3 separate regions of the Homo sapiens genome follow, and regions 1 and 2 are each linked to region 3. Evidence: fine-mapped expression QTL. A gene starts in region 3. Each other region holds a variant in brackets. All regions are shown on one strand. Distances are between the middles of the regions.

What was found.
Region 1: its variant is fine-mapped to the expression of PEBP1 in transverse colon (GTEx, PIP above 0.99).
Region 2: its variant is fine-mapped to the expression of PEBP1 in whole blood (TOPMed, PIP above 0.99).

Annotation. Positions count from the first base shown.
Region 1 is chr12:118,095,604-118,106,496 of GRCh38, reverse strand. VSIG10 (V-set and immunoglobulin domain containing 10) reads left to right here and starts at 2,486. Exons shown (of 9, transcript NM_019086.6): 1 at 2,486-2,904; 2 at 10,683-10,893. The coding sequence starts at 2,826. LOC124903029 (a long non-coding RNA gene) reads left to right here and starts at 2,915. Exons shown (of 2, transcript XR_007063478.1): 1 at 2,915-3,508; 2 at 4,230-4,892. RefSeq lists an enhancer at 36-751 and a silencer at 2,393-2,642. The variant A/G (reference allele first, on the strand shown) is at 5,651.
Region 2 is chr12:118,206,227-118,217,119 of GRCh38, reverse strand. It overlaps TAOK3 (TAO kinase 3), which reads left to right. Exons shown (of 21, transcript NM_016281.4): 10 at 3,010-3,103; 11 at 4,125-4,206. Among named protein-coding and RNA genes, the nearest start is that of PEBP1, 76 kb to the right of the region's middle. The variant T/A (reference allele first, on the strand shown) is at 6,078.
Region 3 is chr12:118,130,666-118,141,558 of GRCh38, reverse strand. It overlaps PEBP1 (phosphatidylethanolamine binding protein 1), which reads right to left and starts at 5,435. Exons shown (of 4, transcript NM_002567.4): 1 at 5,215-5,435; 2 at 3,411-3,520; 3 at 2,008-2,108. The coding sequence starts at 5,349. It overlaps LOC101928274 (a long non-coding RNA gene), which reads left to right and starts at 5,567. Exons shown (of 4, transcript XR_945409.4): 1 at 5,567-5,702. RefSeq lists a silencer at 5,058-5,147 and an enhancer at 5,140-5,640.

The DNA.
Region 1 (10,893 bases), 35 kb after region 3:
TCCATTGCCCAGGGAGGGGCAGGAGACAGATGCCTTCCTCTTGTCTCAACTGCAAGAGGCATGCCTTCCTCTTATATTAATCCTCCTCAGCACAGACCCTTTACGGGTGTCGGGCTGGGGGCAGTCAGGTCTTTCCCTTCCCACAAGGCCATATTTCAGACTATCACATGGGGAGAAACCTTGGACAATACCTGGCTTTCCTAGGCAGAGGTCCCTGCGGCCTTCCGCAGTGTTTGTGTCCCTGGGTACTTGAGATTAGGGAGTGGTGATGACTCTTAAGGAGCATGCTGCCTTCAAGCATCTGTTTAACAAAGCACATCTTGCACCGCCCTTAATCCATTTAACCCTGAGTTTGACACAGCACATGTTTCAGAGAGCACGGGGTTGGGGGTAAGGTCACAGAATCTCAAGGCAGAAGAATTTTTCTTAGTACATAACAAAATGGAGTCTCCCATGTCTACTTCTTTCTACACAGACACAGTAACAATCTGATCTCTCTTGCTTTTCCCCACACTAACACGGTGAAACCCCGTCTCCACTAAAAATACAAAAATTATCCGGGCGTGGTGGCAGGAGCCTGTAGTCCCAGCTACTTGGGAGGCTGAGGCAGGAGAATGGCATGAGCCTGGGAGGCGGAGCTTGCAGCGACAGAGCGAGACTCCGTCTCAAAAAACAAACAAACAAAATTCCTGTCAAGAATCTGATGAACAGTTATTTTATTTTATTTTTTATTTATTTATTTTTTTTGAGACGAAGTCTCGCTCTTCTCCCCAGGCTGGAGTGCAATGGCGCGATCTCGGCTCACTGCAACCTCCACCTCCTGGGTTCAAGCGATTCTCCTGCCTCAGCCTCCCAAGTAGCTGGGATTACAGGCGCCTGCCACCACACCGGGCTAATTTTTGTATTTTTAGTAGAGACGAAGTTTCACCATGTTGGCCAGGCTACTCTCGAACTCCTTACCTCAGGTGATCCACCTGCCTCGGCCTCCCAAAGTGCTGGGATTACAGGCATGAGCCAACGTGCCCGGCTGATGAACAGTTATTTAAAAATATTTGAGCAAAGAATAAAAAAGGGCTGAGCGCGGTGGCTCGCACCTGTAATCCCAACACTTTGGCAGGCCAAGGCGGGTGGATCACTTGAGGTCAGGAGTTCGAGACCAGCCTGGGTAACATGGAGAAACGCTGTCTTTACTAAAATTACAAAAATTAGCTGGGCGTGGTGCTGCACACCTGTAGTCCCAGCTACTCGGGAGGCTGAGGTGGGAGGATCACTTGAGCCTGGTAGTTTGAGGCTGCAGCGAGGTATGATTGTGCTACTGCACTCTAGCCTGGGCAACTGGAGTGACACCCTGTCTCAAAAAAATAAAAAACAGAAAAGTAAAAAAGGCAGAACTGTTCAGCTTCATTGCTCAGTTCACCAGGAGAAACATTTTTTTTTTAAAGTGGTTTCAAGAGGATTTCCTCATGGAAGAAGCATTTCAATAAGGGGACCGTTGAACAACAGAACTAATGATTTTTTTTTAACGTTAATATTTATTTTGAGATGGAGTCTCGCTCAGTCGCCCAGGCTGGAGTGCAATGGCGTGATATCGGCTCACTGCAACCTCCGCCTGCTGGGTTCAAGCGATTCTCCTGCCTCAGCCTACCCAGTAGCTGGGATTACAGGCGCCCGCCATCATGCCCGGCTAATTGTTGTATTTTTAGTAGAGACAGGGTTTCACCATGTTGGTCAGGCTGGTCTCGAACTCCTGACCTTGTGATCCGCCCACCTCGGCCTCCCAAAGTGCTGGGATTACAGGTGTGAGCCACCACGCCCTGCCATATTATTATTATTTGAAACAGGAAGTTTCTCCTAGGGCTGTTTTATGGATGGCTCTTCCTGAGGATATCAAAGCCGCATTTTCCCCAGGACAGAATGGGATGAGGGCATGGCAGGGAAGAGAGGAGCTTAGCCTGGGAATCTGACTGGGTAAGGGGTGGGAGAACTAAAAGGGGAAAAGCAAAAACAAAACTCTTGAGAAACACGTCCTGGGGACTCCTTGGCTCTCGCTGTCACTGTGTGGTCCCAGCCAGTTCACTGGAGAACCGGAGTCTCGTGGCTGCTTTGGCTGAAAGTCAGGGGATCATCTTTCTCTGGCTCCCTTTTGCAGAGGGTAAGGAAAGGAAGCGATGGCGGCCTTGGCGCCCGCCCTGCGCCCAGGGACACAGACCGGAATCCCTCGAGACGCTCAGCGGGGACTGCCAGGGGGGTCCTGCGTTCTGCAGCTTGGCAACCGCTTCCTCCGGGTTCTGCAGCCCGGGGCAGCGGCGGGGGTTGCGTCCTGCGGCAGCTGCAGGGCTCCGTCCCGCCCGCTGTCCCCGCGACTCGGTACTGCTGTCCCGGGCGGAGTGGACTGGGGAGGGCCCAGCCTCCGCGCCCCGCCCCTGGCCCGGCGGGACCCGGCTCGGCGCGCCCTCGGCAGAAAGCCCTCCTCCCGGGCCAAGGTAGAGGAAGTTGGGCTCCCGCCTGGCTGGGAGGCGGGAGGGATCCCGCTCCTGTTGTTTTCCGCCGGCAGGAGTAGGCTGGCGGGCGCAGGGGGCGGGGTGCGCCCTCCCTCCCCGGCCAGGGCGCTCGGGAGCGGGGACCCGAGCCTGCAGCCGAGCTCCGCTGCCGGCCCTGGACACTCGGCTCAGCCAAGCATCCTTCCTGGGGGCCGAGGAAGTGGGGCCACTCTGCCGTTCCGAGGACCTGGGAGGAGCCCTCGGTACCCCGGGCCCCGGGGCCCTGGGGCACACACGTCCAGCCCAGCCCGAGCCTGCGTTTCCTGAGCCGGGATCTGGGGCGAGATGGCCGCAGGCGGCAGTGCGCCCGAGCCCCGCGTCCTCGTCTGCCTCGGGGCGCTCCTGGCCGGCTGGGTCGCCGTAGGTAAGGGGCCGCGATCTGGAGGGAAAAGTTGAGTTTTCCCAGTCAGCGGTGGGGAGGGGACAGCGAGAGACCCAATTCCCTCCGACTCCGCCCGGATCCGTGGTGGCCCCAGCCTAGAAGCTGCCCCAGGAGGGTCTTGGTTTCCTGCTCGCAGCTCGGCCGTCTTTGCAGGAAGGAGTTTTCCCGGGCGCCCGGTGCGGGGCGAGATACCCCCAGCCTCCTGGGGTGGGCAGCCGGTGAGGCTGCAGAGGAGCCGAGCCGAGCCGACGTGCGGGGGCAAAGTAAAGAGGCACGTGTGCCGGGAAAGTGATTTTTTTTTTTAAGCGTCGGATGTAAATTCGCGTTCTGGTTTTAGTAGTAACTGATACGCTGGTGCTCAAACTCGAGACTCCCACTTTATTTTTCTCCTCCCTCTGCCCAAGGTTGAACTCGCCTTACACCTGTAACCGGTGGACTTCCCTACACACCTTTGCAAGTCTTCCTGTGCCGACCAGCGCCTTCAAAGCGGGGTCTTCCGCCTTTACTTTTGGAAAAGCTTTTTATTTTGAAATACTTGGCTGACTTACAAAAGACTTCCCCTCACACTTGACATGATTGACAAAAGGTCTGAAATGCTTCATCTATGGTCTGCTTTGCTACGAAAAAAGAATTGGAGGGGTGCTTACAAAAATATGTAGAATGTAAAAAGATTGAACTATTTATATATATTTGAATTTAATTCACCAGCATGCCTACTGTGCATGCCTACTGTGTGCTGGGAGTGTGACAAGCTGGGAGGAGGCTGGGGTGCAGGGAGAGGAGATGGAGCCAGGAGGTGGTGAAGTTTGCCAGGATGCAGGCAGAGCGCTACTTTTTGTGTTCCCGGGTCTGCTCCACCCAACGGGTCTCCTCTTGCACGTTTCTGGAGATGGGTTGTAAAGTATGCTGGAGCTTCTTAGCAGCAAGTGCCAAGAGTTCCTAATTATTAGGCTCATACAATTTTATTTTGCTTTTTTTTTTTTAACCAACCATTTAAAAACAATAACATCTCTAGATTTCCAGTTTATCTGGAAAAATCTGAAGGTCTGGCAACACGGGGCCTGCTTTCCCAGTTGGAATTGGGCAGTGGTCATCCTCTTATCTAGGGCATATGAGCCCAAATTTGTTCCACCTCTCCCTGTTGTAATATTTGCCCCGCCACCTTCAGTCATGGGTGTTACCTGCTGGCCCTGCAGGCATTTGGCTGAGTAATCACTGTGCTGGGGTGTGGGTGATGGGGGAGGACAGTTCCTAGTTGGTCATCTCTGGACGTGAAAGGTGGTTGTCAAGTATTCCCATCTCCCCAGCTGTTTGCAGTGTTTCCTGCACGATGAACACCAGGAACCTGGGAAGTGAGAAGAACCCTGGGATGAAGTCATCCTGCTGGAATGACCTGGCTTTCAGGCTGACTGCCACCCGCCCCATGGGGAACCTATCTCCACTGCTATGGCCAGCTATTTTTTTCGAGCCAGGCTCTCGCTCTGTTGCCCAGGCTGGAGTGCAGTGGTGCAATCACTGCACTGATCCTCCCACCTCAGCCTACAAGTAGCTGGGACTACAGGCGTGCACCACCACGCCTAGCTAATTTCTAAAATTTTTTTGTAGAGACGGTCTCTACAATCGCTTGAGCCCAGGCTGGTCTTAAACTCCTGGACCCAAGCGATCCTCCTGTCTCGGCCTCCCAAAGTGTTGGGATTATGGGTGTGAGCCACCGTGTTGGGCCTTTGCCCAGCTATTTTGATGCCCAGACCTGCTTCACCTTTGTGTATGATGCCAGGGGGCTTCCTGAGCTTGGTGTATTTTTGTTGTGTGTTTGTTTTTTAAGTTGGGAGTTTTTGGGGAAAAAAATTTTTCTCCTGACATTCAATGCCAGACAACTTATATGCATCCACTAGCTACCCCGGATTGTAAATCCTAGGTTATTCTTGGGAAAAGTTGCTTTAAAAAAATAAATAAATGTTTGGGTATAACTCCTACTCTGTAAATAATAATACATGGGCAGCATCAGGGAGTTTATATTACTCCCTCTTCGGTTCTCTATTGTACATTTAAGGTTGGGGGGCAAGAAGGACCCTCTGGACACCATATGAATGACTTCTAAACTTGTTACTATATTTTATCATTGCATCCTGTCTGGTGCAGGAGACCAGAGTAACGTGACCTGAGTGACAATCCCACATCTCCCAGTGATTTGCTTGGGACTTTAAGTGATAACTTAATCTTCCTAAATCTCAATTTTCTCAGTAGTAAAGTGAGGAGGTTTAGGACTGCCAGGCAAGAACTACCCCTTCCATGTCTATGTCAGACATCACTAAATCGATGACTGTGTTCTTTTCCACTGAACCAGGACTCAATCTCATCTTCAACCCAGCCCACAGGGCAGCCACATCTCTGGACTAGATGATCTCCAAGGGCACCTTCAGATACAGTGGTTTAAAAAAGAACGGAGTAAGCCAAACCAGGAGAAGTGAAATGTCTTCAAATGGTTTCTTTTGTGATCATGTCATTCTATGCCTTGGAGGAGAAAACAATGTTAGCTCAAGTTCCAAGACTAAAGTTTCACCACGGCTTTTTTCCAAGCCACTGTTCCTTTATTTCTTTGCCAAGGAGTTAGGCAAGGGGCAGGTCTGCAGGTTGCATGAACACATGTTGCATCTGTAACTCTGAAGTTCATCTTCCTTTCCATTGTGGCGGTTGCCACTGGATAATTTGGGTTCCCAATCCTAAT[A/G]ATTTAAAAATAATTCTTGGCTGGGTGCGGTGGCTCCCGCCTGTAATCCCAGCACTTTTGGAGGCCGAAGTGGGCAGATCACCTGAGGTCAGGAGTTCAAGACCAGCCTGGCCAACACAGTGAAACCCTGTCTCTACAAAAATACAAAAACTTAGCGGGGCATGATGGCGGGTGCCTGTAATCCCAGCTACTCAGAAGACTGAGGCGGGAGAATTGCTTGAACCCAAAGGCAGAGGTTGCAGTGAGCCGAAATTACGCCTTGCACTCCAGCCTAGGCAACAGAGCGAGACTTCATCTCAAAAAAAAAGTAAATAAATAAATAAAAAGAATTCTTATCTGCTTTTTTTTTTGAGACAGAGTCTTGCTCTGTTACCCAGGCTGGAATGCAATGGTGCGATCTTGGCTCACTGCAACCTCCGCCTCCCAGGTACAAGGGATTCTCCTGCCTCAGCCTCCCGAGTAGGTGGGATTACAGGTGTGCGCCACCACGCCCGGCTAACTTTTTGTATTTTTAGTAGAAACGGGGTTTCACCGTGTTAGCCAGGCTGGTCCCGAGCTCTTGATCTTGCCCACCTTGGCCTCCCAAAGTGCTGGGGTTACAGGCAGGAGCCACCACGCCCGGCCATTCAGCTAATTTTTAGTAGAGATGAGGTTTCACCATGTTGGCCAGGCTGGTCTCCAACTCCTGACCTCAAGTGATCCACCTGCCTCGGCCTCCCAAAATGCTGGGATTACAGGCGTGAGCCACCGCCCCCGGCCCTCACCTGCTTTTTAAAGTGATTGCTCAGAAGCATTTCTTGCTGTTTTGGAATCTCTGTCATTAGATGGCATTCTCCACCTTTCAGCAAGTGGCTTAGTTTTTAAAATTTGGTGTTTTGTTTGTTTGTTCGTTTGTTTTCATCCTGACTTGGCTGAAAAGTCTTGGGAATGGTGTGGCCAAAATGGTGAGAGAATCAGAACTTCCTGGGGCTCCAGGCTGGCTTCAGATCTTTAAAAGGGAGCCCCTTCTAACCAGACAAGAGGCCAAATACAGATAATGATTACTCTTTCACTTAAATGGGAAGGATTGCCAGGGGCAAGTGGCAGTTTATTTTTTCTATAACAGCTTTATTCAGATATAATTTACATGCCACAAAATTCACCCTTTTTAAGTGTACCACCCAGGGGATTTTAGTGTAGTCCAGGGTTATACAGCCATCACCACTAATTCATCATTTTTATCACCCCAACAGGTTCTGCCCATCTTCCTATTCCTGCAGCCTCTTTGTATTGGGTCTTGATTGTGGAGGGGGCTGGACAATTGTGAAACTTCTCAGCAAAATGGGTTGCATTTGCTTCTTGTTACCTAGTGACAGTCTAATGCCCGTTAGCACCTGTCGGTCTTTTTTTATGAGTCAGGGTTGGCTGGGCGTGGCAGCTCACGCCTGTAATCCCACCACTTTGCGAGCCCGAGGTGGGTCTGAGTGGAATGCTTGAGTCCAGGAGTTCAAAGACCAGCCTGGGCAACATAGTGAGACCCCCCACCCCAACCCGCCGCCCCTCCACCATCTCTAAAAAAGAAAAAAACAGTTTTTTACCTTAAACAAACAAAAAGAGAGACAGGGTATCTCTGCTGCCCAGGCTGGAGTGCAGTGTCACAATTGTGGCTCACTGCAGCTTCAGTCTCCTGGATTCAAGTGATCCGCCCACCTCAGCCTCCCAAAGCCCTGGGATTACAGGCCTGAGCAGGCACACTCACACCCGGACACCTGTCAGTCTTGAATGGGCGTCAGAATCACCTGGAGGGCTCGCTAACACACAGATGCTGGGCCAGGTATAATGAATCATTCCTGTAATCCCAGCACTTTGGGAGGCTGAGGTGGGAGGATCACTTGAAGTCAGGAGTTCAAGACTGTCCAGGACATCAGAGTGAGACCCCCCCCAACCCCCATCTCTTAAAAAAAAAGTTAAATAATTGCTGATTTGTTAAAAATAAATAAATAAAACACAAAGGGCTGCTGCTCTCCCGCAGTTTCTGATCTAGGTGTTTTGGGGTGAGGCTTGATAATTTATATTTCTAACATGCTGCGGCTGCCGATCTGGGCTTTGGAACATGCTCCGTTTGCCTGGGAACCCATCCTCACCTTTTCTTGGCTGATTCCTACTTGTCCATCAGATCTCAGTTTGGCTTCCTGGGGGAAGTGTTTCCTGACATTTGCCCTAGTTGGACTTAGGAGCCCTTTCTCTGAGGCCTTATCTTGGTGTTTATCACACTGCATTGTACTTGCCAGTTTATTGTCTCTTTTCTTCACTAGACTGTGAACTCTTGGAGGTTTCTGTGTGTTGTGTCCACAGTGGGATTCCCAGTGCTTTGTCCAGAGTGGGCACACAGTCCCTACTGCCAGCCCATTCTTCCATGGGGCTTCTGAGAGAACTTGAACTCTAGGGCCATTTGAGATGGAGAGAGATGGAGAGGCAGAGAGAGAGGGAGAGGCGGAGAGAGAGGGAGAGGCGGAGAGAGAGGGAGAGGCGGAGAGAGAGGGAGAGGCGGAGAGAGAGGGAGAGGCGGAGAGAGAGGGAGAGGCGGAGAGAGAGGGAGAGGCGGAGAGAGAGGGAGAGGCGGAGAGAGAGGGAGAGGCAGAGAGAGCAGTGGGACAGTGGAAACAAAGCCAAAGCCCTCTTCTTTCTACCCCTTCTGGATTTCTAGGCAAATAAAGCCACTTGGGTTCTGTATCAATTATTGATCGCCACAGTAATGCTGTATAAGAAACAACCCCAAAATGACAGTAGTGCTTATTACCCACAGGCTGGGGTGGTTGGTTAGGGGGCTCTGCTGATCTGCCTGGGGATCGATGACTAGCTGAAGGCTGATCTAGAATGGGCCAGGCTGGAGCCACTGAGACAACTTGGGTCTGTACCATGTAGTTTGTTTATTTATTTATTTGAGACAGAGTTTCACTCTTGTCACCCAGGCTGGAGTACAGTGGTACAATATCGGCTCACTGCAACCTCCGCCTCCCGGGTTCAAGTGATTCCCCTGCCTCAGCCTCCCGAGTAGCTGGGATTACAGGTACCTGCCACCATGCCCAGCTAAGTTTTTGTATTTTTAGTAGAGACGGGGTTTCACCATGTTGGCCAGGCTAGTCTCGAACTCCTGAGCTCAGGTGATCCACCGCCTCAGCCTCCCAAAGTGCTGGGATTACAGGCGTGGAGCCCGGCCTTTTGTTTGTTTGTTTGTTTGTTTCTTGTTTTTGAGACAGAGTCTTGCCCCGTCACCCAGGCTGCAGTGCAGTGGCACAATCTTGGCTCACTGCAACCTCTACCTCCTGGGTTCAAGTGATTCTCGTGCCTCAGCCTCCTGAGTAGCTGGGACTACAGGTGTGCGCCACCACGCCTGGCTAATTTTTGCATTTTTAGCAGAGACGGGGTTTCACCATGTTGGCCAGGCTAGTCTCGAACTCCTGGCCTCAAGTGAAACCTCCTCCCTCGGCCTCCCAGCGTGCTGGAATTACAGGCATGAGCCACGGCTCCCGGCCTCATTGCAGTTTTGATTTGCATTTCTGTAGTGATTATAGACAAACACTTTAAAGACTCTGCTTGTGTCACATTCCCAACATCCCATGGGCCAAAACAGGGCTCATGGCTGAGTCCTCACAAAGAGTGGGATGGCCCCCCAGTGATGTGGGGCATGGATGGTGGGCAGACTGGGTGGACAACTGGGGCTATGTTTGTTACCTACTACAAGTTCATTATTGTCAGTGACTGGCCAAGAGTCCCAACATACCAGACGTTCTGTATGTGTTGTTTGTTTGTTTGTTTGTTTTGTTTTTAGACCGAGTCTCGCTCTGTCGCCCAGCCTGGAGTACAGTGGCGCAATCTCGGCTCACCGCAACCTCCACCTCCTGGGTTCAAACGATTCTCCCACCTTAGCTTCCCGAGTAGCTGGGATTACAGGCGTGTGCCACCACGCCCGGCTAATTTTTGTATTTTTAATAGAAACGGGGTTTTGTCATGTTGGCCAGGCTGGTCTCGAACTCCTGACCTTAGGAGATCTGCCTGTCTTGGACTCCCAAAGTGCTGGGATTACAGGCATGAGCCGCTACGCCCAGCTGCTCTGTATGTGTTATTGCATCTTAAGAACACATATGGTCAGGCACGGTGGCTCATGCCTGTAATCCCAGCACTTTGGGAGGCCGAGGCCGGCGGATCAAGTGATTCTCCTGCCTCAGACTCCCAACTAGCTGGGACTACATGCCCAGCTAATTTTTTGTGCTTTTTTTTTTTTTTTTGAGACGGAGTTACGCTCTTGTTGCCCAGGCTGGAGTGCAATGGTGCGATCTCGGCTCAGCGCAACCTCTGCTTCCCAGGTTCAAGCGATTCTCCTGCTTCAGCCTCCCTAGTAGCTGGGATTACAGGCATGTGCTACCACGCCCAGCTGATTTTGTATTTTTAGTAGAGACAGGGTTTTTGCATGTTGGTTAGGCTGGTCTTGAACTCCTGACCTCAGGTGATCCGCCCGCCTTGGCCTCCCAAAGTGCTGGGATTACAGGCGTTAGCCACCATGCCCGGCCACAATTTTTTGTATTTTTATTACAGACGGGGTGTCACCATGTTGGCCAGGATGGTCTCGATGTCTTGACCTTGTGATCCGCCCACCTCGGCCTCCCAAAGTGCCAGGATTACAGGCATGAGCCTGACTTTTCCTGAGGTCAGGAGTTCAAGACCAGCCTGGCCAATGTGGTGGTGAAACCCTGTCCCTTTTGAAAATATAAAAATTAGCTGGGCGTGGTGGCACGTGCCTGTAATCCCAGCTACTTGGGATGCTGAGGCAGGAGAATAGCTTGAACCCGGGAGGCAGAGGTTGCAGTTAGGCGAGATAGTGCCATTGCACTCCAGCCTGGGCGACAGAGTGGGACTCCGTCTCAAAAAAAAAAAAAAAAAAAAGAACATATACCTGATTTTTAAAAAAATCCTAATACAGGAGTACTGTCCAAAAAGGGACATTGTTTAGAAATTAAGAAGGGTAGTAACAGCCTGATCTTGCCTTGTACAGGATTGGAGGCTGTTGTCATTGGAGAAGTTCATGAGAATGTTACTCTGCACTGTGGCAACATCTCGGGACTGAGGGGCCAGGTGACCTGGTACCGGAACAACTCGGAGCCTGTCTTCCTTCTCTCGTCCAACTCTAGCCTCCGGCCAGCTGAGCCTCGCTTCTCTCTAGTGGATGCCACCTCCCTGCACATTGAATCGCTGAGCCTGGGAGA
Region 2 (10,893 bases), 76 kb before region 3:
ATTTTAGAAGTGGTTAATAGAAGAAGAGCCTTTACTTAAAAACTAAGGTGCTCTGATGAAACTAGAGATCAGATTATGAATTAGAAAGTGAGACTATATAAAAAATCCATTAGGGTAAGCACAGTAGAAAGAGATAGTGATTTATCTTCTTCTTCTCTTCCTTTTCTTTTTCTTTTTTTTTTTTTTTTTTTGAGATGGAGTCTCACTCTGACGCCCAGGCTGGAGTGCAGTGGCACGATCTCGGCTCACTGCAGGCTCCGCCTCCTGGGTTCACGCCATTCTCCTGCCTCAGCCTCCCAAGTAGCTGGAACTACAGGTGCCCGCCACCACGCCTGGCTAATTTTTTTGTATTTTTAGTAGAGACAGGGTTTCACCGTGTTAGCCAGGATGGTCTCGATCTCCTGACCTCGTGATCCACCCACCTCAGCCTCCCAAAGTGCTGGAATTACAGGCGTGAGCCACCGTGCCTGGCCTGATAGTGATTTATCTTCTATTCCGTAACAACTAATAAATACCATAAAATTAACTGTACTCAGAACTAGAGCCTTGTTTCTTTCCTTTGATCCACAAATGGAACCCCTAATATGTGAATCACATTTTATTACAAATTCTGGGGGAATAAGTAAAAGAAAAAGAATATTCAGGTTATAAGATCTTGTGCTCTTAGAGCTTATGATTTCTTTTGAGAGAAAAGATTTGTATGATGATGTAGATATGATAGGTGAGCACATGCCAAATGACCAGTATGCCAAGGGAGAGTTGGAGGAGTTCCAATAAAGAGATCGTGGTGGGCTGGGGAGGAGTAAATCCTCTACCAGGAAATACCTGGCCAGATACAGTGCATCATGCCTATACTCCCAGCACTTTGGGAGGCTGAGGCAGGAGGATAGCTTGAGCCCACAAGTTCAAGACCAGCCTGGTTTAAGACGGGGTCTCACTCTGTTGCCCAGGCTGGAGTGCAGGGGCCGATCTCAGCCCACTGAAACCTCCACCTCCTGGGTTCAAGTGATTCTTCTGCCTCAACCTCCCAAGTAGGTGGGATTACAGGCTTGTGCCAACATGCCCGGTTAATTTTGTATTTTTAGTAGAGACAATTTTCACCATGTTGCCCAGGCTGGTCTCGAACTCCTGGCCTCAGGTGATCTGCCGGCCTCGGCCTCCCAAAGTGTTGGGATTATAGGTGTCAGCCAACGCGCCCAGCCTCTATACAAAAAAAAAAAAAAAATTGTTTAAATTAGTCCAGCGTGGTGGCACACACCTGTAGTCTCAGCTACTCAAGAGGTTGAGGATCTCATGAGCCTGAAAGGTCAAGGCTATTGTGAGCCCTGATTGTGCCACTGCACTCCAGCCTGGGCAACAGGGCAAGTCCTCATCTCAAAAAATAAATAATTAAAAAATAAATGCCTGACTCACTGAGTTTCTCTTTAGAGTGGGATGGACCAGACTTTATTTATAATTTATAGTTCTCTTCCTCCTTTCCATTTCTCTCTCTACTGTCACCCCTAGCAATTATTTGGCCTGAATCAGGCATCAGACAGTATTTACTGAATATAATTGGCTTATCTCTCATGCTCTGTTAGTGATTTTTGTTGTTGTTGTTGTTCTTTTGAGACAGAGTCTCACTCTGTCACCCAGGCTTGGGTACAGTGGCGCGATCTTGGCTTACTGCAAGCTCTGCCTCTCGGGTTCATGCCATTCTCCTGCCTCAGCCTCCCGAGTAGCTGGGACTACAGGTGCCTGCCACCATGCCCAGCTAATTTTTTTGTATTTCTTTTTTTTTTTTTTTTTTGTAGAGACGGGCTTTCACCGTGTTAGCCAGGATGGTCTCGATCTCCTGACCTCGTGATCCACCCGCCTCGGCCTCCCAAAGTGCTGGGATTACAGGCGTGAGCCACCGCGCCCGGCCATTTTGTTAGTGATGTTTAAGATGTTTCATTATGGGACTGGGTGCAGTGGCTCACGCCTGTAATCCCAGCACTTTTGGAGGCCAAGACGGGTGGATCACGAGGTCAGGAGTTCGAGACCAGCCTGGCCAATATAAGGAAACCCCCTCTCTACTAAAAATACAAAAATTAGGCCGGGCGCAGTGGCGCATGCCTGTAATCCCAGCACTTTGGGAGGCTGAGGTGGGTGGATCACCTGAGGCTGGGAGTTCAAGACCAGCCTGACCAACGTGGAGAAACCCCATCTCTACTAAAAATACAAAATTAGCCGGGCATGGTGGCTCATGCCTGTAATCTCAGCTACTCAGGAGGCTGAGGCAGGAGAATTGCTTGAACCTGGGAGGCGGAGGTTGTAGTGAGCTGGGATCGTTCCATTGCACTCCAGCCTGGGCAACAAGAGCGAAACTCCATCTCAAAAAAAAAAAAAAAAGAAAGAAAGAAATTAGCCATGCACGATGTCAGGCACCTGTAGTCCCAGCTACTCAGGAGGCTGAGGCAGGAGAATCACTTGAACCCAGGAGGCAGAGGTTGCAGATCGTGCCACTGTACTCCAGCCTGAGCAACAGAGCAAGACTCCGTCACAAAAAAAAAAAAAAAAGTTGCATTTTATAGTAATCTTTTTTCCTTATTCTATGTTTCTTTGCTTTCTGACTTTTTTAAGTGAATATGAATTTTTTTCTTTTTCTTTTTCACCAAATACCCAGACTTCAAGGAGAGAATATATATTTTTGAGCTAAAACGCACATGCAAAGATCTTCATACCTATTGTGGGAAAATATGCAAAAGCCAATTTTTTGAAGCTATGTGAAAAAAAGAAAAAAACTTTTCTTTCACTCTTTTGAAATGAGTTCTGTTAGGAGCTTTGCCAATGTACATTTAATGTCCGGCAGCTTCTTCTGAATGGCTATCTTGGGCCAACCTTAGAGATTAAAATAAGTGGATTATGTGGCATGATGACAGTAATGAGCTATTGATTTAGCCGCAAAGCTTTGCTCATAGTTTCTTATTTCTCTGTCTGCCTGGTTTCCTTCAAGAACTACTTTATTGTGTTTCTTTCCTCTTCCAGCGGAACGGAAGCCGCCCCTTTTCAACATGAATGCAATGAGTGCCTTATATCACATTGCCCAGAATGACTCCCCAACGTTACAGTCTAATGAATGGTAAGACTCTGCTATCATTTTAAATCTCTAAGAAAATCACCGTATGTATTTGACATTTTTATTACATTACATTTTAAATATCTGACCTAGAAAGCATTTCTTTCCTTCACTGTATGTTGTTACAAGTGACACTGATGCCTCACAAGCATCAACTGTCTACACATGCACACATGCATAGATTTTCTTATTTTTGCCTTCACCATGGCTTGCACTGTGTTCTTAATGTGTCTAGTAACCAAAATCCTGCAGGGAACATGCCCTGCTACCCTCCTAACAAGTCTATTGTCCCAGGTCATGATGGTCTTGTATTGATCATCTCAGCTGATATCACTTCTCAGCAGAGATAAGGGGCCCTCTATGATGTCATTATTTCTCCAGTTGTCTTTTTTTTTTTTAAACTATATGTACACTTAAATGTGTTGAGACAGAGCATACATTATCTATTCAGATACAGTGTTCCTTGCTGAAAAGTATGACATTTTTATAACTATTTGGGCCACAAGAGTTATTTTAAAAGGGGCAATATTAAAGAAGAACGGATAAAATGGAACTTTTAAGATAGGAAGAATTTTTGTTCAGGAAGCCTACTCCTGGGTTCTCCATCCCTCATGCTTCAAATTTTACTACTTTGTTATAGATTGTGGGTGGTAGAGGAATTAACAATTGGTAATTAAGAATATAGAGTTGAGACTATGAGAATTGTTGTCTTTGGAGAGAAAAATGTATATAAAACTTTTATTTAAACATAGTATTTTTGTTTTCTGATGTATATTATGATTTGACCTTCCTTATATATTAAGATGTATTAATATGTTGACTAACTTGAAACTTGTCCTCACTCATTATCCAAAAGAATTTTAGATATCGTAACTTGAAAATGCTCCAGTTATCCTGATATTCCAAAGCATTTTTTTAAAATCTCCTTAAATGCAAAATTTTCCCTTGAATGAAAATTGTTTTAAGTAATCAGTGTGCTCTACAGACCCTGAGTTTATTTTCTTTTGTGTATTTGCACACACAGGACAGACTCCTTTAGGAGATTTGTTGATTACTGCTTGCAGAAAATACCTCAGGAAAGGCCAACATCAGCAGAACTATTAAGGGTAATTTTTCAAATTTATATTTGAGGAGGGGGATTTAAAGTCATGTTATAATGGAATATAATAAATCATTCCTGTGGCAGCTCATCATGACAAAGTGGTTTAGGACGTGCTGCCTTGTCATTTATCCTGAGATAAGTAGCTAGGCATAGAAATAGCAAGATTATTGCAACGTTATGTGCTATGTATTCCCTGTGGATAGGTTTTTCCCTATCTTTTCTATTTTTTCCCCTCCCTCCCTGTTCCTTTTTTGCCTTATAACAAATAATATTTCTCCTCCTTGCTCTAGTCATCATTGTGATGTTCCTGGGCCTAACATCTGCATAAACATTAATCCAGTGGTCTCAGGACAGAGCTGGCTGGTGGTTCAAACACCAACTCTGGGATTTTCAGTTAGGTTGTTGCCAAATCCTCAGGCAGTGAAGGTGTATGATAACTATATAGAGTAGACATTTACATAGTATTATGACATGTTAGTGATAAGAGTATCGTGTTAACCACATTTATTTGATTTAATTATCACCAAGCATCTCTTTTCATGTAATATTTTACTGTAGACTTTATACATAGGCAGTGTGTTGCATCAATATCAGTGTAGTATGTGGAAATCTTTTACAGTAGAAGTGTTTTCTTTTATTTGGCGCACAATAGTCCAAATTTCTTTAATCCTTCTTTTGCATGTTTGTTTTTCAACCCTTTCTGTTTCTTCCGTCTCTAGAATGGCTGGCTTTTATTGTATAGCAGTTCTGTTTGTTCGTTTTTAAGAAGAACTCAGAAGAGTTGTATTGCCTCAATTTGTAAAGCTTAAAAATGTTTGCCTTTATAATTTAAGAACACCTTGGCTAGGTGACAAGTTTTTACTTCTTGTGAGCGGTAGGCCACAGGAGTATGGTAAGAGAAGCAACAGGACAAAGAGCTTGATCTTGTTCTCCTTTGTTGTGGAGCCCTTACATGTTTTAAACATGAACTACTTAGCAACAATTCCATGTTTCTTTAGGGGAAAATAGCAACCAGAACAAAACACCAGAAACACACAATAATATCTTTATTACCTTGAAGTACACAAAGATCTTAAAAACAAACAAACAAAAAACCAAGACATAAAAATTACTACCATAAAAGGGGAAAAAATGTGGAGCTGGGTATGGTGGCTCACGCCTATAATCCCAGCATCTCAGGAGGCTGAGGCAGGAGGATCACGTGAGCCCAGGATTTTGAGGTTATAGTGAGGTATGATTGTGCCACTGCACTCCAGCCTGGGCAATAGAGTGAAAATACCATCTCTTTAAAAAAAAAAAAAAAAGGAAAATATGAATAAATTTGGGCGATGTTAAAAGTTAAGGGTTACAGACAACAAAAGGATATAAAAAGCAAATGGGTAGAGGTAAAGAAAAAAATGGAAGAGAAAAAACATAACAGTTTAAAAAATCATATTATAAGCAACGAACATGTAGTAAACCAACCCATTTAGGATGTTTCCAATGGTGAATAGGCTTAAGGAAATAAAATAGAATTAAGTGCAAAAAATAAAACTTCTAAAGATGAATATAAAGAAAATGATACATTTGGAAGACACAGGAGATCTAATATATGCCAACCGATTATTCCTGAAAAAGAAAACAAAACACATGGAGGAGAAGATTTTTAAAGATATCCTTGAAGAAAACTTTTCTGGAAATGTTTGGATCTTCCTTTGATTTGATTCCATCTTGATTTGATGGACCAAATCAAATGGGCCAACTATTTATTCAACAAATATTTACTGATTGTCTGCTGGGTGTCAAGTACTATTCTAAGCGCAGAGAATACAGTAGTACACAATAAAAACATAGTGCCTGCCCTTGTGAAACTTACAAGAAGGAGTAAGAAATAAA[T/A]AAGTAGGCCGGGCGTGGCGGCTCATGCCCGTAATCCCAGCACTTTGGGAGGCCAAGGTGGGAGGATCAGGAGGTCACCAGTTCGAGACCAGCCTGGCCAACATGGCGAAACCCCGTCTCTACTAAAAATACAAAAATTAGCTGGGCATGGTGGCAGGCACCTATATTCCCAGCTACTCAGGAGGCTAAGGCAGGAGAATCACTTGAAGCCGGAAGGCGGAGGTTACAGTGAGCCAAGATAGCACCACTGCTCTCCAGCCGGGGCAACAGAGCGACACTAGGTCTCAAAAAAAAAAAAAAAAGAAAAAAGAAAAGAAATAAATATATGTTATAGTGCCAGTTGATGTTAAGTGTTGTGCAGAAAAATAAATTAGACAAGCATCAAGATTGACAGGTGCTGCTATTTTAGGTAAGGAGAAGGCCGTTCGAGGAGGTAACATTTAAGCAGATACATGCATGAAGAGGGGGACCATGAAACTGATCTTCATTGATCAGTAAATCATATCCTGGTGAAGTCCCTGAACTCTAGGAATAAAGAAAGATTCATACAAGCAGACTGAAAAAGTTTATTTTGGGGTGGAAAAACCAACTGACTCCAGACCTACCTCTTCAGGAACAGTCAAAGCCAGAAAACAATAGAACAGTGTTTGCAGAGTTCTAAGGGAAATAAAATATAAGCCAGGAATTGTGAGCCAGCCAAGATGTTCTTAAATTATAAAGGCAGCTGACATCTTCGAGCCCCACACATTTAGGCAATGCAACCTTTCGGCGCTTTCCTTTTAAAAATTGCTCAATAACAGAATCTAGCCAATATAGAGATGAAGCAAAAAGAAGAAAAAGAGGGAGGAAGGCAAGCAGGAAGAATGAATGAGGGACTGGAGAAACTGGTAAAAGGGCTGATGGTAAATATTGAATTTAAAGAGGCCCCTCCCCAAATACTTATTTATTTATTTTGCATGGCTAAAGAAGCTGTATGTTCTTCATTTTAAATAGGTCTCACAAATTTCCAAAAGGAAAAATACAGTAGAAGGTACAACCTGGGGCTGGGCACAGTGCCTTACACCTGTAATCCCAGCACTTTGGAATGCTGAGGCAGGCAGATCACTTGAACCTAGGTGTTCAAGACCAGCCTGGACATGACAAAACCCCATCTCTACAAAAATTAGCCAGGTGCAGTGGCATGCGCCTTTAGTCCCAGCTGCTTCGGAGGCTCAAGGAGGAGAATCACTTGAGCCTGGGAGGCAGAGGTTGCAGTGAGCCGAGATCCTGCCATTGCACTTCAGCCTGGGTGATGGGAGTAAAACCCTGTCTCAAAAAAAAAAAAAGAAGAAGAAGAAGAAGAAGAGCCGGGTGCAATGGCTCACACCTATAATCCCAGCACTTTAGGAGGCCAAAGCAGGCAGATCACCTGAGGCCAGAAGTTCAAGACCAGCCTGGCCAACACGTAGAAACCCCATTTCTACTAAAAATATAAGTATTAGCCAGGCATGGTGGTTCACACCTGTAGTCCCAGCTAATCGAGTGGCTGAGGCAGGAGAATCGCTTGATCAACTAGGAGGTTGCAGTGAGCCGAGATTGTGCCCCTGCACTCCAGCCTGGGCAACAGCAAGACTCTGTCTCAAAAAATAATAAGAGAAGGTAGAACATGAAAAAGAAATCTCCCTCCCATTTCAGGCCCCCTCACTAGCAACCACTGCACCTATTTTGTACCTCTCCTTCTAGTGATATTTTATGCATATAAAAGTAAATGTTGTTTTTATTTTTGCACAAATGACAGCAAACCATAAAAACCGTTCCACCCTGATTTTTCTTTTTGCTTTACAGTGTGCTTAGGATATTGTTTTGTATTACTACATGCAAAGCTACCTCATTCTTTTTAATGGCTCCATAATATTCTTAGATGGACCATAATTTGTTTAACCAACGCATTTAGGATGTTTCCAATCTTTTGCTATTACAAACTGTGCCGTAATGAATATCTTTGTGTATATGGCATTTTGTCCCTGTATAAGAATATCTAAAGAATAAATTCTGGCCGGGCACGGTGGCTCATGCCTGTAATCCCAGCACTTTGTGGGGCCAAGGTGGGCAGATCACAAGGTCAGGAGTTCAAGACCAGCCTGGCCAAAATAGTGAAACCCCATCTCTCCTAAAAATACAAAAATTAGCTGGGCATGGTGGCATGCGTCGATAATCCCAGCTACTCGGGAAGCTGAGGCAGGAGAATCACTTGAACCCGGAAGGCGAAGTTTGCAGTGAGCCGAGATCGTGCCACTGCACTCCAGCCTGGGCAACAGAGCAAGACTCCATCTCAAAAAAATAAATAAATAAAAATAAAATAAAGAAATTCCTAGAAGTGGGATTGCTCATCAATGTGGATTTTAAATTTAGATAGATATTGCCCATTTGTCCTTCAAAGCAGTTGCACCAATTTATAGTCCCACCGTGAAAGTATGAAGACTGATACTTTTTGAACTTTGTCAGATCAGTGAAAACTTTTCTCACTATAGTTTTAATTGCTATTTCACATTATGGGAGATGTTGAACATCTCTCTCGTAAGTTGAAAAGCCATTTGTATTTCCTTTTTAATTTATAGTAGATCTTGGATTTTTTTTTTCCTATTTCTCTTTTGACATTCTTTATGCTGATGTTTTGTGGAAAGGAGGTGGGGAGAGTTATGCAAAAATTTGTTACAAGGAGTGAGGTAAAAATCTACCTTTTTTCCCCCAGCTAAGCTATCTACTTACTCCCAGATATTTTTCAATAATACATCTTTTCCATGCATTTTTGCCCTGACATTAAAACATCACTTTCACACTTAATCCATTTAAATAAACAACTGAGGTAAAATTATTGAAATGGTTAAAGGACAGATGTAAATGTTAGAAACATTTGCAATGTAAAAATAATGTAATTAGAAAAATCTAAGGGCAGGAAAAACGTATGCATACTAATTTCCTTATCTTTCCAAGTAGATGGACAATAACATTTCTTAAAATATATAGGACAAAAGAACTAAAGTAACTTCAATCTCGTAAAGCCTTTAATAATTTTTTTTTTAACTTTAGAGGATCTGTTAGGAACAGATAACTCTTTTGGTGAAGAAATTACAACTAAAGTTAAGCAATTGTTTTATTTTTTAATTTGTGCATGTGTGTGTGTGTGTGTGTGTGTGTGTGTGTGAGACAGAGTCTCGCGCCGTTGCCCAGGCTGGAGTGCAGTGGCGCGATCTCGTCTCACTGCAACCTTCGCCTCCTGAGATTCTCCCTAGCAATTCTCCTGCCCCAGCCTCCTGAGCAGCTGGGATTACAGGCACACGCCACCATGTCTGGCTAGTTTTTCTATTTTTAGTGGACACAGGGTTTCACCCTGTTGGCCAGGCTGGTCTCAAACTCCTGACCTCAAGTAATCCACCCGCCTCAGCCTCCCAAAGTGCTGGGATTACAGGCATGAGCCACTGCATACAGCCTATGCAATCGTTTTAATTCAGTCTCTTCTAATCCTGTTAAATTCAAATATACCTTAATTAAATCGATTATACATAAAATTAGCTTGTATAATCAGATTCCCATGTAAAATGATTTCTAGTTATTCATTGTTCTGAGAGAAAGAAAGGGACATGTCTAAAATGATATTCTGTAACTTAATATTTATGTATTTATTTCGAGATGGTAGAATTTCGGGTGATTTTCTTTCTTTTTTTTTTTTTTTTCCTGAGACGGAGTTTCGCTCTTGTTGCCCATGCTGGAGTGCAATGGCACGATCTCGGCTCATGGCAACCTCTGCCTCCCTGGTTCAAGCGATTCTCCTGCCTCGCCCTCCCTAGTAGCTGGGATTACAGGCATGTGCCACCACGCCCGGCTAATTTTCTATTTTTAGTAGAGACAGGGTTTCTCCATGTTGGTCAGGCTGGTCTCGAACTCCTGACCTCAGATGATCCACCCTCCTCGGCCTCCCAAGGTGCTGGGATTACAGGCATGACCCACCGTGCCTGGCCGATTTTCTTTTTTTATACATTTTTCTGTGTTATTTGAGTGTTGAAAGTAAACATATTTTTGAGAACAATAAAATTGTCCTTTTAAAAGAGTCCGAGGGCATTCCAGTTGTAGGGGTTTGGAGAACAGTGGGCTTTTAAAAACAATGAGGAGGCCGGGTGCAGTGGCTCACGCCTGTAATCCCAGCACTTTTGGAGGCTGAGGTGGGCAGATCACGAGGTCAGGAGATTGAGACCATCTTGGCCAACATGGTGAAACCCCATCTCTATTAAAATACAAAAAATTAGCTGGAAATGGTGGTGCATGCCTGTAATCCCAGCTACTTGGGAGGCTGAAACAGGGGAATTGCTTGAACCCGGGAGGTGGAGGTTGCGGTGAGCTGAGATGGCGCCACTGCACTCCAGCCTGGCGACACAGCAAGACTCTGTCCCAAAAAATAAAAATAAAAAAAAACAATGAGGAGATGGGATTGCAGGCAGAGAGAACATAGAGATGTGAAGGCAAAGGCCTAGAGGTGTGAAAGGTATGCACGGGTTTAGAATTACCTAGAATGTACCTAGAATTGTGTAGGAAGGAGGAGTAGCAATGACTAGATTTAAACCTAGAAATACAAGCAGGAACCTGGCTGTAAAAGGCTACACTTTATCTAAGAGACAGTGAGATATTAAGATGTAGAGTGTATCTGTTTGTAAAAGGTTTAAACAGGTAAGAGTTTATCTCATGTAATAGGAAGTCCAGGACATTGGAAAAGGAAGTGGCGTAAGCAGTCCAAAGCTCTAAGCAGCTCAACAATGTCGTCATCGACCCAAGCTCTTTCTCT
Region 3 (10,893 bases):
TTGTACCATGTTGGCCAGGCCGGTCTTGAATTCCTGGCTTCAAGTGATCCAACTGCCTCCACCTCCCAACATGCTGGGATTATAGGCGTGAGCCACCGTGCCTGGTCCATGATACCATTATATGAACACAAGAATAGCGAAAGTGGCTGGACACAGTGGCTCACGCCTGTAATCCCAGCACTTTGGGAGGCCAAGGCGGGCGGATCACAAGGTCAGAAGTTCGAGACCAGCCTGGCCAACATGGTGAAACCTTGACTCTACTAAAAATACAAAAATTAGCTGGGCGTGGTGGTGGGCGCCTGTCATCCCAGCTACTCAGGAGGCTGAGGCAGAAGAATCATTTGAACACAGGAGGTAGAGGTTGTAGTGAGCCGAGATCACGCCATTGCACTCCAGCCTGGGAGACAGAGCGAGACTCCATCTCAGAAAAAAAAAAAAGAATAGTGAAAGTGATTTATGGAGACAGGAGTCAGAATATGGTTAGCTCTGGGGGAATTTAAGTAAAAAGGTCACATGAGAATGTCGTTGGGCGATGGAAATGTCATCTGTCTTTCCAATGGCTGCTACCTTCCATGGGTGTATGCATTGATCACATTTGCTGACTGAACCCTTCCGATCTGTGGATTTTGTTACCATGTAAATTATACCATATTACAAGAATATGGAAAAAACAACAAGAAAATGAGTTACTGAGGCTTTTTTAAAAATGAGAACACAGCTCTGCCGGGCGCAGTGGCTCACGCCTGTAATCCCAACACTTTGGGAGACCGAGGCAGGTAGATCACAAGGTCAGGAGATTGAGACCATCCTGGCTAACACGGTGAAACCCCGTCTCTACTAAAAATGCATAAAATTAGCCAGGCATGGTGGCGGACACCTGTAGTCCCAGCTACTCGGGAGGCTGAGGCAGGAGAATGGCATGAACCGGGGAGGTGGAGCTTGCAGTGAGCGAGATCGTGCCACTGCACTCCAGCCTGGGAGACAGAGCAAGACTCCATCTCAAAAAAAAAAAATGAGAACACAGCTCTTACTTGAGAGAATTGCCTTATTCTCATGGGTAAGCTTCCCATAATTAACCTGCCTAATTTTATAACTGCCCTAGAGAACTTACTAGGTCCCTGGGAAATCTGTCCCTTTACCATCTACTATGCATGCGTGAGAGGGTTTAAAGGCATCTGAAGCTTCCGGGTCTACAGAGAAACCATGAGCCCATGACCAACTGTCCATGTCAGAGATGTTCTTGTACCTCTTCATGTTAACTCCTGGCTGGATAAGCTGTACAAAAAGCTAGGATTATGACAGTTCCACCAAATGGAAACATCCTGAACTGAACACCAGGCAATAAGAATGCATATCTCACCATCAGCTTAGGTGGCACTTACCCAACCTGGAAAGTTTCAATACGGTGGGCTTTCTCTTTCTATCTCTAAATATCTACATGTATTTTATATATAATAGCTATAACACGATACTACACAATACAATGTGTGTGTGTGTGTGTGCGCCTTCAATATAGTTCTACTGAAGTCTTCCAAATCTGTTTTCAATATACCCAGCTAGACTTTTTCAGAAACAAATACAGAAAGCAACCTTATATAGTTAATTTGGAAACTATGATCATTTCTGAAATGTTTTAAAGAAACTCAAAGATCACCCCGGGCAAAGGCTTGAGATAGTTTAACTGTGTATTCCACTCACTGCAGCCCCAAAAGGCCATGCTAAGCTTTCTGCAACAGTGCTTCCCTCTCACCAACTTCCCTGCTTGCTAAAGGGCTAGGGGTGCAGAGACAGCTCTACACAAAGGGTCCGTCTGTCCAGAACCCAAGGCTCTAGCCACCTGACACTGCTGCAGGTCTGAATGTGTGCCCTGAAGGCAGCTGCCCTAGAGGTAAGCTGAGATGCTATTTCCAGCAGGGTTAAGGGCTCTCAAAAGAAAAGCATTGGGTCAATCCTAATGTGCCCCCGAGCTCCCTCCCCAACCTCCCACCAAAAACAACCTTTACTAACCTGTGCCCTTGGGAGGCCCCGAGCCCACATAATCGGAGAGGACTGTGCCACTGCTGATGTCATTGCCCTTCATGTTGACCACCAGGAAATGATGCCATTCTCTGCATGAAGAAACACGGGATGTCAGCACCACAGGAGATCAGGGAACATTCACTGCACAGTCAGCAACTGGGCATCAAGAACATGCTGGCTGCCACAACACAGCCACGAACAACAGTCCTTTCTTTTTTTTTTTTTTTTGAGACAGAGTCTCACTCTGTCACCCAGGCTGGAATGCAGTGGCACGATCTCGGCTCACTGCAAGCTCCTCCTCCTGGGCTCAAGCAATTCTCTGCCTCAGGCTCCCAAGTAGCTGGGATTACAGGCGCCTGCCATCATGCCTGGCTAATTTTCGTATTTTTAGTAGAGACGGGGTTTCACCATGTTGGCCAGACTGGTCTTGAACTCCTGACCTCGTGATCCCCCCGACTCGGCCTCCCAAAGTGCTGGAATTACAGGCATGAGCCACCGCGCCCGGCCCAGTCCTCACTTTCTTAGAGGCCAGCACGAACCTCATGTGTTTGCAGAAGAGCAGACCCAGCCCCTCCCACCCTCTGACATTTTCTAGAGCAAAGGTCAGCAAACTTTCCACTAAAAGGCCAGAGAATAAATTTGTTAAGCTTTGGGGGCCACAGTCTCTGTTGCAACTATTCAACTTGGCCTTGGCAGCATGAAAGCAGCCACAGATGACACATAGCTTTGCTCCAATAAAACGTTAACTGATGGACACTGACAGGTAAATTTTGTGTAATTTCCACATCATAAAGTACTATTCTTCTTTCAATTTTTCACCAATCATTTAAAAATGTGAAAACCAGGCCGGGCATAGTGGCTCACACCTGTAATCCCAGCACTTTGGGAGACTGAGGCGGGCAGATCACCTGAGGTCAGGAGTTCGAGAGCAGCCTGGACAAGGTGAAACCCCGTCTCTACTAAAAATACAAAAATTAGCCAGGCATGGTGGTGGGCGCTTGTAATTCCAGCTACTCGGTTAGCTGAGGCATGAGAATCACTTGAACCTGGGAGGTGGAGGTTGCAGTGAGCCAAGATCATGCCACTGCACTCCAGCCTGGGTGACTGAGACTCTGTCTCAAAAAAATAAAAAATAAATAACTAAATAAAAATGTAAAAACCATTCTTAGCTCATGGGGCTGTATAAAAACAGGCCACAGGTGGATATGGCTCTCGGCTGTGAGTTACAGACACCTGCTGTAGGGGGGCAAAAGGGCAGGAAAGGCACTCTCTGGCTTAAGCATGGGTGGGGGCATCCCAAACCAGGTCTACTTCTCTGTGTCCAGCAAGGGACTTACACCCGATAACTCATCTCTGCATGACCTGCTCTTCTCGTCTTTCTCACCTCTCACCTGTATTTGGGATCCTTCCTGCTGGGAGCATCCGGGTCTGTCAGGACCAAGGTGTAGAGCTTCCCTGAATCAAGACCATCCCACGAAATGCTGGTGGGTCTATTCTTAACCTGTATGAAGGAACCAGTTTGCAGTAAAAAAGTCAGAAATGCTGAAGAAACTGGCTGGGTGTGGTGGCTCACGCCTGTAATCCCAGCACTTTGGGAGGCCTAGGAGAGAGGATCACTTGAGGTCAGGGGTTTGAGACCAGCCTGGCCAACACGGTGAAACCTGCCTCTACTAAAACTACAAAAATTAGCTGGGCATGGTGGCGGGAATCTGTAATCCCAGCTACTCGGGAGGCTGAGGTGGGAGGATCACTTGAGCTGGGGAGGCAGAGGCTGCAGGCGGCCAAGATCACCCCACTGCACTCCAGCCTGGGCGACAGAGTGAGACTCTGTCTCAAAAACAAGAAATGCTGAAGAAACCAATACTCTTTCTTTGATCTCAGACTCTCCAAAGACAAAACAGAATAGATTTTTAATAAAATCAATGACCCTGTATTGACTGTAAGAGCCAGGAGCTGGAGTTTTATATACGTTATGTATTTTATTTGAGACCAGGTCTCCTTCTGTCACTCAGGCCGGAGTGTAGTGACGCTATCAAGGCTCACTGTAGCCTCAACCTCCAGCGCTCAATCGATCGATCCTCCCACCTCAGCCTCCTGAGCAGCTGGGAACTACATGCTCACACCATCACACCTGGCCAATTTTTTTTTGTAGAGTTGGGGTCTTGCTATGTTGCCCAGGCTGTATATTATTTCAGTCCCAACAACACCATGGGGCTAGTATCCCAGCACACTATTAAGAGAAACAGATAAGGCTGGGATTCCAACCCTGGCACTGAGTCCCCTCTCAACGACACCCTTACATTGTCTGTCCGGAATCACAGCGTTTCTGGATTTGGTGATCAGGAGGTTACCTGGAGCCTGCTGAAGTGAAATCTGCATTAACTGTACGTTTCAAAGTGCAAAGAAAAGGAGAAAGCCAAGGTGATGAGAGGCGGGCAGGGAGCAGGAAAAGGGAGGCTGTGTTAGATGGGCACTACATATTTAAACATCCAAAAAAATTAAATTCTGTGAACATCCAAAACAATGTAAGGTCGGGGCAGTTTATTTTACGCTGTTGCCCGGAGCTTCATAACCAACTAGCAGTGGCGTCTGCAAATCTAGTTTCTTCACTTTCGGCAGCCCCAGCCGTGGGCGTGGGAGGTCAAAGACCAAAACTAAACCGTTGCCCTCCAGCGTACCGGCTGGACGCTCTCGACCCATTTAACAAAGGAGAAATCGGCCGGCGCGCTCATCGCCAGTTACATAATGCGTCACAGGCTCTCGGGTGAGGCTTCAGCCCTCCAAAACCAGGCCTAAAATGCTGAGGCCCTAGGGGAAGCTCTGGGGGCGTCCGGGCAGCCACAGCCTACTCTGTCCCGGCGACGTCCCTCTCCAGCGCCCTGGCCTGTGGGGGGAGAGGGGGATCCGGCCTGTTTCCGAACCTAGGTCCCTCTTGGGTCTGAAGCCCGGGAAAAGTGAATGAATTTCTGCCGCAGGCCGAACCTGCCTGGCCACGCCACAGGCCGGGTTCCCGGTGCTCGGGGTGGCCCCCAGGCATGGGACATGGACCCCGGGACCTCTGGCCTGGGGGGGCCTCGACACACGCAGGCTGAACCTCCCCACCGCCCCTGGCCCTGTCTCCGCTGGGTCCCACCCAGGAGGCCGGCACAGGCCTCCGCGCCGTGCCGCTCGCTGCACGCCCGCCGCCCGGTGTACCTGGGTGGGCGTCAGCACTTTGCCCAGCTCGTCCACCGCCGCCCCGGCGTAGGTGACATGCAGCGGGTGCTGCGGCTGCTCGTCCACTTCTTGCAGGCTCAAGGGCCCGGACCACTTGCTGAGGTCCACCGGCATGGCGAGGCCAAGCAGAGCGTGCAGCCGGGAGTGCCGCGGTAGGCCAGGCGCGGGCGACAGAGGCGACGCGGAGAGCTCAGCACACTGGCTCGGGAAGACGCAGACCCAGCGACCACGCGAGAGCACGCGCCTCAGCCGCCGCCCAGCCCCGCGCACCGCCCCACGTCACGCCCACCGCTCCCTGGCCTCTGATTGGCCGAAGCTGGCAGAGCAGGGCCTCTCGCGCTCCTGGGTCCATGCAACCTGCTCCCTGTGGCTGCCGAGTTCTCGGGAACAGCGGCTCGGCCTGCAAGGCTGTTGTTTCAAGAAATGAAAATGAAGGGCGCCCTGGAATAGGTTCGCCGAAGAGAGAGGTTCGTGTCTCAGAAAGTGTCGCTGGGAAAAAAAAATGCAATTGAATTCGCCTTGGTTGCGTTTTGGTTTTCTTAATTTTTTGCATGATTCTTTGCTCCACTTTCCAAATTCAGCAACATGGCCTGTCGCGGTGGCTCATGCCTGTATTCCCAGCACTTTGGGAGGCCAAAGCAGGAAGATCGCTTGAGCCCAGGAGTTTGAGACCATCCTGGACAAGGTAGCAAGACCCCGTCTTTACAGAAAACTTAAAAAAAAAGAAAAAAAGAAAAAAGCCAGACACAGTGGTGCATGCTTGTAGTCCTAGCTACTCCGGAGGCTGGGGCGGGAGGATCACTTTTTTTTTTTTTTTTTTTTGAGACGGAGTCTCTCTGTGTTGACCAGGCTGGAGTGCAGTGGCGTGATCTCGGCTCACTGCAAGCTGCGCCTCCCGGGTTCACGCCATTCTCCTGCTTCAGCCTCCCGAGTAGCTGTGACTACAGGCGCCCGCCACCACGCCCGGCTAATTTTTTGTATTTTTAGTAGAGACGGGATTTCACCGTGTTAGCCACGATGATCTTGATCTCCTGACCTCGGCCTCTCAAAGTGCTGGGATTACAGGCGTGAACCACCACGCCCGGCCGATCACTTCTTGAATCTAGGAGTTTGAGGCCGCGGTGAGCTACGATCTTGCCACTGCACTCCTGTCTGCGCTTCAGAGCCAGATCCCATCTTCTCATACACACACACACACACACACACACACACACACACACACACAGCAAATTCAGAAACAGTAAGGCCTTGCTTTTCTCCTGCACTTTAAAACGAGCCAGATTCTCTGTATTTTCGCACGTGATCACTTGTCATAGTAATTGCCTGGTGAGAGCACCTGAGTGAACTTTTGAGCATTTAAATATATGGGGAAATGTATTTGTCCGTTTTCTCCACACACAAAATTCGTCCTCACAAAATTCCTGAGAAATGTTTGGGTTTTGGTTTTTTATGTTTGTTTTTTGAAAAACAATTTTAAACCATATTTATTCATACCAAAACTGCTCTTACTGTGACCACAAGCTGCTTGCTTTTTGCTGAATATGATAAGCACTATTTTTTTTTTTTTTTTTTGAGACGGAGTCTTGCTCTGTCGCCCAGGCTGGAGTGCAGTGGCGTGATCTCAGCTCACTGCAACCTCTGCCTCCCGGGTTCAAGCAATTCTCCTGTCTCAGCCTCCCGAGTAGCTGGGATTACAGGCAGGCGGCACCGCGCCCAGCTAATTTTTGTATTTTTAGTAGAGACAGAGTTTCACCATGTTGGCCAGGCTGGTCTCGAACTCCTGACCTCATGATTCGCCTGCCTCAGCCTCCCAAACTGCTGGGATTACAGGCAATAAGCCACCGCGCCCAGCCAATAAGCACTATTTAACAGTTCTTATCTGTTTTGACTCTTGACATTGATAATTCCTCCCATGGAATAAAAAGTTGTCTCTTGATTTACATTCTTACTAGGAAATAATACGAGTTCATTGTAGAAAATCAAAGAAAAAAACCCAAAGAAGTAGAAATCCCCTTCTATCCCACTACTTTGTTATAAACGTCAGTAATCATTTAGGGTATATCTTTCCTATTTAAAAATAATATGAGTATAGATGATTTTGTTGTTTATTCACCAAAAGATTGCATTATATCCTACCATTATAAAATAGTCATATCAAAAATAGGTCGTCAGGCCAGGTGCGGTTGCTGAGGCCTCTAATCCTAGCACTTTGGGAGGCTGAGGCAGGAGGATCACTTGAGTCCAGGAGTTTGAGACCAGCCGGGACAACATGGTGAAACCCCATCTCTACAACAAAATACAAAAATTAGCCCGGTATGGAGGGATGTGCCGGTAGTCACAGCTACTACCAAGGCTGAGGCAGGAGGATCACTTGAGCCTGGGAGTTTGAGGCTGCAGTGAGCCGTGATTGTGCCACTGCACTCCAGCCTGGGCGACAGAGTGAGACCCTATCTCTACAAAAATAAAGCAAAATAAAAAAAGTCTTCAACATTTTAATGACTTCTCTAGATGCACCATCATTTATTCAACAAGCCTCTTGATGTACTCTGTTTTGTTCATTGTTTTCCTTTTACAAATATCACTGAAATGAACTTCCTTATACATATATCTTTAAAAACTTGAAAGACTGTTTTTGGAAAATTTTATTACATGGGAACTTTTATTAATTAGGTCAAAAAATACACACTTTATTTTTTGTTTGTTTTGAGACAGTCTTGCTCTGTCGCCGAGGCTGGGATGCAGTGGCACAACATGGTGAAACCTGTCTCTACTAAAAATATAAAAATTAGCCAGGCGTGGCCGGGCGCGGTGGCTCATGCCTGTAATCCCAGCACTTTGGGAGGCCGAGGCGGGCGGATCACGAGGTCAGGAGATCGAGACCATCCTGGCTAACACGGTGAAAACCCGTCTCCACTAAAAACATACAAAAAAATTAGCTGGGCGTGGTGGCGGGCACCTGTGGTCCCAGCTGCTACTCAGGAGGCTGAGGCAGAAGAATGGCATGAACCTGGGAGGCCGAGCTTGCAGTGAGCCGAGATCGCGCCACTGCACTCCAAGCCTGGGTGACAGACCGAGACTCCGTCTCAAAAATAAAATTAAAATAAAATAAAATAAAATAAAATAAAATAATAAAATAAAATAGCCAGGCGTGATGGCACACACCTGTAATCCCAGCTACTAGGAAGGCTGAGGCAGGAGAATTGCTTGAACCTGGGAGGCGGAGGTTGTAGTGAGCCCGAGATTGTGCCACTGCACTCCAGCCTGGACGACAGAGTGAGATTCCATCTCAAAAAAAAAGAAAAAAGAAAGAAATATTTACAATATATTCTCTGAAGCCTGCTACTTGGAGGCTTTTTTTTGGGGGGGATACTCCACAACCCCTTATCATAACCCAGACATTCCTTTCTATTGATAGTAACTCTTTTAACCAATTGTGAATCAGAAAATTTTAAAATCTACCTATAACCTGAAAGCCCTCCCACTTCAAGTTATCCTACCTTTCTAAACCAAGGTTTTGTTTTTTTGTTTTGTTTTGTTTTGTTTTGTTTTGTTTTGTGTTTGAGACAGGGTCTCGCTCTGTCACCCAGGCTGGAGTGCAGTGGTGCAATCACGGCTCACTGCAGCCTCAACTTCCCGGCTCCAGCGGTCCTCCCACCTCCCGCAGGTGTGTGCCACCATGCCTGGCTACGTTTTGTATTTTTAGTAGAGACAGGGTTTTGCCACGTTGCCCAGGCTGGTCTCGAACTCCTGAGCTCAAGTGATCCACTGGCCTCAGCCTCCCAAAGTGCTAGGATTACAGATGTGAGCCACCACAGCTGGCCCCAATATATATCTTATATGTATTTAATTGCTGTCTCATGTCTCCCTGCAATGTATAAAACCCAGCTGTGTCCAACCACCTTGCACACATTTTCCCTGGGTCTCCTGAGGGCTGGGTCATAGGCCATGGTCACTCATATTTGACTCAGAATGAATCTCTTCAAATGTTTTACAAAGTTTGACTCTTTTCATTGATGCTATTTATTCTGCCGTCTGCTTGTATTTCTGCCACGTGTGCCTCTTCTAGGCCAGAAGCTTGGGCAGGTGCTGGTTGAGGGTAGACTCAAATGAACCAGCCTGGAAAACCACCAGTTGTTTTTGTTTGTTGAGTGAGGACCAGGAAATTCACTGATGTGGTTATTTAGTGAAATGGCTTCATGCCAATTTCACTCATTGTGCTTCTGCAAGAGAAACTGTTTAATGAGGGAATTTGGGGCCAGGGGCGGTGGCTCATGCCTGTAATCCCAGCACTCTGGGAGGCCGAGGCGGGTGGTTCACCTGAGGTCAGGAGTTGGAGAACAGGCTGGCCAACATGGTGAAATCCCTGTCTCTGTGAAAAATACAAAAATTACCCGGGCGTGGTGGTGAGCGCCTGGGATAATCCAAGCTACTCAGGAGGCTGAGGCAGGAGCATCGCTTGAACCCGGGAGGCGGAGGTTGCAGTGAGCCAAGATCGTGCCACTGCACTCCAGGCTGGGCGACACAGCAAGACTCCGTCTCAAAAAACAACAAAACAAAACAAAAATAATAATGAGGGAATTTTGGACAAAAACAAAGTTCTGTCCTTAGCTCGAGTTCAGAAACTGTTGTGGCCATGCCAGTGACTTGGAACTGCCACTCCAGGGGACCGAGGTGCTGGCTGCTGGCCAAGGATATGCACTGAGACACTGTTGTGAGAATTAACCATTAACAGGTCGCCGGGATTCCGTTTGTCACATTTTTCCTATTGAGACTTTTTTTTTCCCTTTTCTCTTTGAGAATTTCAAAGCATTTAAAAATACCCTCTATGTCCGGGCGCGGTGGCTCACGCCTGTAATCCCAGCACTTTGGAAGGCTGAGGCTGGTGGATCACGAGGTTAGGAGATCGAGACCATCCTGGCTAACACGGTGAAACCCCGTCTCTACTAAAAATACAAACAACTTAGCCGGGCGTGGTGGCGGGCACCTGTAGTCCCAGCTACTCGGGAGGCTGAGGCAGGAGAATAGCGTGAACCCGGGAGGCGGAGCTTACAATGAGCCGAGATCGCGCCACTGCACTCCAGCCTGGGTGATAGAGGGAGACTCTGTCTCAAAAAAAAAAAAAAAAAAAAAAAATACCCTCTATGTTCTCACTTAATCTCCGACAGTCCTTGGTTGATGCAGACGACCACACATCCAAAAGGAAACCAGGTATGTCAAATCATGCGTAAACTCGGGAAAGCCTCATCATGCAGACTTTAGCAATGTTAAATTAGTGATCATTCAGGCCAGGCGCAGTGGCTCACCCCTGTAATCCCAGCACTTTGGGAGGCCGAGGCGGGCAGATCGCTTGAGGCCAGAAGTTCAAGACCGGCCTGGCCAACATGGTGAAATCCCGTCTCCACTAAAAATACAAAAATTAGCCAGTCGTGGTGGTGGGCACCTGTAATCCCAGCTACTCGGGAGGCTGAGGCAGGAGAATGGCGTGAACCCAGGAGGTGGAGGTTGCAGTGAGCCAAGATCGCGCCACTGCACTCCAGCCTGGGTGACAGAGTGAGACCCTCTCTCAAAAAAAATAAAATTAGTGATCATTCAAACCAGAATCATGACAATCTTTGTGAAGAATGGCTTGCTTTGTGTCTTAAACAAGACAAGCTGCAG